2 linked regions of the Homo sapiens genome follow. The protein of the gene in region 1 purifies or fractionates together with the protein of each later gene. This does not show direct contact. Each region holds a gene or a part of one and is shown on either strand. Other genes may lie near its edges.

Region 1 (3,500 bases):
CCTGACTTGTCTTGTTGTCTTCTCTGTTTTCATTTTTGAATAATATTGAATGTTTAGCTTCAATTTTTTGCCTCTGTCTCTTCAAGCTCTCTTTCCTGATGCTTTTGTTCGTAATATAAAAATAAAACTAATTTGTTAAATTATAACAATAATATGTCCTCATGATTAAAAAAATTGAATAATACAGAAAGATGTAAAGAAAAGAAAAAAATTGCCCTTTAACCTCTTTCTGGCACCTGGTCTGATTTCCCAAAGGTAATTAACTCCTGCTAACTGATCCAGGTTTATATTTTATGAAGTTTTTAACATATATACATGTATTTGTTAATTTCAAAAAAAAAAAAAAATTCTAGATACCTTTCTTCCTATAGACAGAATTGCATATTGTTTCTTGATTTAATCTTTTCTTTATTTCTTACATGACATCTTCTTAGCAGACACTCTTTCATTTCACAGTTATTTATAGAGCACCTACTGTGTGCCAGCATAGGAAATATCAAAGTAAACAAAACGGAAATGGTTCTGGCCTTTGTGGAGCTCATAGCTCTTCATCTTGTTATAAATCTAGCATTAATCCTGTACCTTTATTTTGCTTAACCTTCTAACTTTGATTTGCTATTATGAGAATTATGTTTAGAATATTTCACAACTGTTGTGTATTTTTCTGTCACAACAGATGTGATGTTGACCATTCTTTTGCAAACAATTAACAATCAAATTGGGATTTTCATATGCATACCTAAAGTCTTTTTAGTTGTATCTTTGTGTGCTGTGATCATCTTTACTTTTGGTTTCAATATTCATTATATTATCGGCATAATGATGTGCTTGCTTTTTATTTTGAGAAATAAATATATATATATATATATGTCAGTGTACAGTCAACAGCATTTTGGTATACTTAATTGAGCATCTCTATTTCTATCAATGCTGATGTTTTGATAACAATGATAATGAACAATAAAAAATTATATTTGAGGTATACAGAGTTTAGCTTTTACAAATGTGAATAGACATTCTCCTCTGTGGTGCTAATTCCCCCTTTATTTGTAAATGAAGCACTTCATATTATTCTTCTCTGTCAAATACTGGCCAAATCCTTTTGTACTTCTGCAAATATCAACCTTTTATGTCTTCATCACTTTTTCTTCCTTGTCTTTGATTACACTGGGCTGTCTCTGTTCACCAGCACATTTGTTAACATCTTTTTCTTGATGTATGGAATGATCCAGCTGTCTCATGATGAAACGATGTAACAAATGTCAATAATTTTTATACAAAAGCAAGTTCTATCAGTTTTAGTTCTGTATATGCATTTGCTAAGAAATAGCGATTCATAGGTACTCCAAAGTGTATATAGATGTGGATGTGCGTATATTTTTTTTACTTAAAATACAAGTTTTTGGGGCTGGGCACGGTGGCTCACACCTGTAATCCCAGCACTTTGGGAGGCTGAGGAGGGTGGATCACAAGGTCAGGAGTTCGAGACCAGCCTGGCCAATATGGTGAAACCCCGTCTCTACTAAAAATACAAAAATTAGCTGGGCATGGTGGGGGGAGCCTGTAGTCCCAGCTACTTGGGAGATTGAGGCAGAAGAATTGCTTGAACCCAGGAGGCGGAGGTTGCAGTGAGCCGAGATCACACCACTGCACTCCAGCCTGGGTGACAAAGCAAGACTCCATTTTAAATAATAATAATAATAGTAATACAAGTTTTTATAAGAGGAAACAATTAGTGTATTTAGTTTTATAAACTATTCTAGAAACCATAATTCATCTCCTTTTTTCTGTCGCTGACTTATTGTTGTAAGTGAAAGAGCTCATCTCTCTAACTTCAGGTAACCTCAGCTATTGCCCAGGCACAATTTCTCTTTTCTGAATTCACGTCTCTTTTAACCCAGCCCTTTCTACTTCAAGTTCCTTTCTAATCACAGTCCCCATTTTATCGATTCCTTATACTTTGCCCTTGGGGAACCTTCTTGGATAGTAAACAAAAAGTCCTGAATCATATTCATGTTTTCTCGAATACACTATCTGTGTCCTCAAACTAATAGAATCTTAGTGTTTTCCTAAGAATACCAAAATCTTCGTACTTCTCCGAGGAAGGTCACTTTCCTATTCCCCTCACTCCTAGCACTAGAAGCAGTGTTCATGGATATTATTAAACATTCTTGACCTGCCCTTTTGAAAGTCACTGTATAAACCAAGTCTTAAAACTTTGTGATGTCCCATCTACTTCCGGAGTACTCATTCTTCTACATCAGTGCTTTCAGCCCCAGGCTGAAATGGATGATTTACTCTACTCCAATCCCTGCCATCCTGCAGCACCTCTAAGATTAAAAACAAAGTGAAACAGAATAAAATCTACAGCATTTCTCCAGTTCGATGACCACGATTTTCAGTGGCATATTCCAAATAAAGTCTTCATTGTCCTCATCAGACCCTCCACTCTCCATTTCTCTGGTCCTTTCCTGGCTGCACGTAGCCTCCTTATCTACTCTGGGTAGTCTGACTCTGTTTCTTACAAGCTTTCACATGTACTGACATGTTTCATTATTTGATGTCAGTATACTAGTAAGTGAGCATACTGAATTGAGATTCAGGAGAGGCAGATCTACACCGAGGTGCTTAAGAGAAGAAGATTGATGCAACTGATGCATCTTCAAATTTCTTTCTTGAGCAGTATACTCTTGTCCAGTCGTTTGGCTTTTTTGCAGCAGTGGCTGCATTTGAGCTTCCTCCCGGCCTCACCATCCCATCCTGCCACGCTGAGCTGCCACATTTTACTAGTACAACCTGTCACACTCAACATGGGAACATGTGTCTCTACTGCCCTCTTGTGTCCACCAGAAGAAGTGATGCATGGTGGGCAGGTTGATGCCTTTGGAAGGAGTTTTGGAATGATGACAACTGTGATTGGCATGCCAATGCCTCTTATCCGTTTTCTTAAACCTTTTACTAATATCCTATATTTTTAACAATGTCAAATTTTCTGTTTTTCAAGGACCATTCCTAGATCTTCTGCCTCAATCTCAAGTCTTTATGCTCACCTACCTGTTTGCTGATATCAAAGCTACATGGTAGAAGCACTCATTTCTCTTGGGCTGTCTGTGTCTTCTCTCTTCACTCCTACCTCTGAAGAAGAAAGGTACCTCCTCTGAGCTAAACAGGAACCCAGATTACAGAGTAGAAAGAGCAGATGGAGAAATAATCAGAGCAGAAATGTAGATAGAAAAGGTAGAAAAAGCAGAAATGGAGGCAAGTGTGGACTCTTCTCCAGAAATGTTTAGTCCAAAGGAAGAAAAAAGCCTGATAGTAGAAGAAGATAGCATAAATGAAGGAAAGTTTTCTGCAGTAGGGAAAACTTGAGTTTATTTATAAGCTCAAGTTTTCTGTTACTGGAGAGTTTTCCTCTCCAGTGGAGAGGAACTGATTAATAGAATGTGTCTCAGAGCAAACAGCAGAAGGTACTTACTTCATCCTATATTATTCTGATTTAT
Region 2 (3,500 bases), on another chromosome or scaffold:
TGAGCCACAGAACTCATCTTTTCAAGCAACATATTTTCAAAGGAGGACTCCAGTATACAAAATAGATGGTATCAGAGCTTCTCTGGCTAAAGACGGGTAGGGGTTGAAAGTTTTCTTTGCTCCCCTCCCCATCCATCCCCAGACTCCTCGGGTCTGCAGAATCCAGGAGCTGAAAACAGCCATCATCCAGGAGGCTGCAGGACTGCTGAAAGCAGCTGTTAACTCAGGTTTTTTTTAAAATATAGGGAAATGAACACATAAGTACTTTGCTAAAGAAAACGTGAGTCACTGGCTGAGGAATAAAACTCATTCACTGAAGCTGAAGTACTATTTGATAAGCTAGAAATATTTTCCCTGAGTAGACCACTGTAAAAGAATGGCATGAACTACATAGTCAACTGAAAGACTCATTAATGGAAATAATCTTAAAGAACAAAAATTGTGACCTTTTTGGTGTCCACAGACTAGGGCTTTGTCTACATTTCACCATCATCTGTTCTTGTACCACAGAAACATGGAAGTTTTCTTTCCGAAGTTCAAGCTAGATCAGAAGTATGAGATGCATGAGCTGCTTAGGCAGATGGGAATCAGAAGAATCTTCTCACCCTTTGCTGACCTTAGTGAACTCTCAGCTACTGGAAGAAATCTCCAAGTATCCAGGGTAAGTCAGGATCTTTCATCAGAGCCCAACCTCAGCATGAAATGTCACCAAAACAAATGCTTTTACAAACCATTTAACTTTGATAAAATACCTAATTGTAGTGGAAAATTAGATTTAAGTCCCAAATACTTGAAATAGCACCCAGGTTGGATGTTTTAAGAATTTCAAGCAACTTCATTAAAATAACTTTTCAACTAATTTATTTTAAGCAGACCTCTCCCCCTCTGCTTAAAGTGCTCAGGGAGAAATTTGACCCTGAAATAGAACTGGTTTACAGAGGCATCATCATTTATGTTGAATACAACTTGAATAGTTCATGAAATTACACCACCTTTACAATGAAACAAACCCCTAGACATCATCTAGCCCAACTTCTCCCTCCTTGTGGAAATCCCCTCCATAGCCCTACGAAATAGCCCTCCAACTTCTCTTCCTCTTCATGCTTCCAGTGACATCAAACTCACCATTTCTTTGAAGAGCTGCCCAATCCACAAATAGCTAAAATTGTTATATGTATATATATATATGTGTGTATATATATGTATATATGTATGTGTGTATAAATGTATATGTGTGTATATGTGTGTGTGTATATATATATACACACACATATATATATATATGGAGAGAGACATACATATATATATGGAGAGAGAGAGAGAGAGAGTCCTGTAACTTCTGATTCATACTTTTTGGTCCTAGTTCTATCTCTAAAACTTCTAAGAACAAGTTTAGTCACCATCCACATAGAATCCCTTCAGTTACTCAGTGTTTCTCAGTGGAAGGGTTCTTGGTTTTGAGGGGAACTGCTTGTTGTCCAGAGCAGTTGTGCATGTTGCAGGGAACTGGTTAGCATTGCTGGCCCATGTTCACTAATGCCAGTAGGAAACTCCAGTCATCACTATAAAAATGCTCCCACACATTTCCAAATGGCAGCTACATCTCTCTACATTCTTCCTTAGCTGTGTGGTTTAATATTTTCTTATACAATTGCAATTTTCAATTCCAAGAGAGACTAAAAATGGCATCCACTTAAGTAGGACACAGTAGGGTAACTGTGGCCTGGAATCAGGTCTTACAACCTCAAGAGAGGTAAGACAATTAAATAAAACAATCCGTCAGACCAGCACCTGAAAGTGTTTCTGCTATGAACACATGAAAAACTGAAATGCGCTGCTGCTTTATGAAGGGTCATCATGAAATTTAAACTGTAAATGATTAAATATTCTCCCTCTGTTTGCTCTGGGGAATTAATTTTCCTCTAGGAAATCAGGGAATTTCCTGGAGTGAAAATCAGTGTAATTACATGTTATGTTTTCATTATCTCTTATAACACAGTAATTATATAGGTACATCACTCATATCACATCTTGTTTCTGTAAAAAAGGGCCTCCCAAACATAGCAAGCAGCCACAGTATAGGCAGCCAGAATTCAGGAAGGCTCCAGGGACCCCTGGGCTTGGCCCAGAAAAATGCCTCAGAGTAGTACCAGGTGCTGGGAAGCTGCTACAGAAGACTAGCCATTCCCTGCCTCCACCTTGCCTGCCAAAAGGAAAGTCAGAGGACTCAAGGGATCCAGGGATCAAGGGATCCAGGCAGCTTGAAAACCTTTTAGGAGCACCAGCTCAGCTCAAGAATTAGTAGCATAAATTACATGCTCAATAAAGATTTGATGCATGAGTGCATCCTGAGTCCATGCCCGGAATGTGTTTCACATATTCCACAATACTTCACATTGGGTTCCTGAGGTCTCCTGGTATTGTTTAAGACTCCTGTGGCAGTCCCTGGTGCAACCCCAGACCACTCCTCTTAACGTAGATGGGCCTGCTCCACTAAATCCCAGGAGCATGACCCCATGGGTAGGACCACTGTGAAGAATTTCAAGGGGCTCATTTAATTCCTCCTTTGCACTGCCACACAAATGGTTTTTCACATTATTTCCTTTTTCCAGGTTTTACAAAGAACAGTGATTGAAGTTGATGAAAGGGGCACTGAGGCAGTGGCAGGAATCTTGTCAGAAATTACTGCTTATTCCATGCCTCCTGTCATCAAAGTGGACCGGCCATTTCATTTCATGATCTATGAAGAAACCTCTGGAATGCTTCTGTTTCTGGGCAGGGTGGTGAATCCGACTCTCCTATAATTCAGGACACGCATAAGCACTTCGTGCTGTAGTAGATGCTGAATCTGAGGTATCAAACACACACAGGATACCAGCAATGGATGGCAGGGGAGAGTGTTCCTTTTGTTCTTAACTAGTTTAGGGTGTTCTCAAATAAATACAGTAGTCCCCACTTATCTGAGGGGGATACATTCAAAGACCCCCAGCAGATGCCTGAAACGGTGGACAGTGCTGAACCTTATATATATTTTTTCCTACACATACATACCTATGATAAAGTTTAATTTATAAATTAGGCACAGTAAGAGATTAACAATAATAACAACATTAAGTAAAATGAGTTACTTGAATGCAAGCACTGCAATACCATAACAGTCAAACTGATTATAGAGAAGGCTACTAAGTGACTCATGGGCGAGGAGCATAGACAGTGTGGAGACATTGGGCAAGGGGAGAATTCACATCCTGGGTGGGACAGAGCAGGACAATGCAAGATTCCATCCCACTACTCAGAATGGCATGCTGCTTAAGACTTTTAGATTGTTTATTTCTGGAATTTTTCATTTAATGTTTTTGGACCATGGTTGACCATGGTTAACTGAGACTGCAGAAAGCAAAACCATGGATAAGGGAGGACTACTACAAAAGCATTAAATTGATACATATTTTTTAAGATGTTTGTGCAATCTGTCTGGTATTTTAAGCTTGTTTCTAAGA

The links. Proteins that work in one complex are often made in the same cells at the same time.
Region 2: the proteins of GUCA1C (region 1) and SERPINA10 purify together in Homo sapiens (affinity purification with mass spectrometry; one large-scale study listed by BioGRID and IntAct). This does not show direct contact.

What each region holds. Positions count from the first base shown.
Region 1 is NC_000003.12:108,912,380-108,915,879, forward strand, and holds part of GUCA1C (guanylyl cyclase-activating protein 3), read right to left. Parts: intron 1-3,500. UniProt on the Homo sapiens protein: Stimulates guanylyl cyclase 1 (GC1) and GC2 when free calcium ions concentration is low and inhibits guanylyl cyclases when free calcium ions concentration is elevated.
Region 2 is NC_000014.9:94,283,269-94,286,768, reverse strand, and holds part of SERPINA10 (protein Z-dependent protease inhibitor precursor), read left to right. Parts: intron 1-510; coding exon 511-661; intron 662-2,612; coding exon 2,613-2,804; 3' UTR 2,805-3,500. UniProt on the Homo sapiens protein: Inhibits activity of the coagulation protease factor Xa in the presence of PROZ, calcium and phospholipids. Also inhibits factor XIa in the absence of cofactors.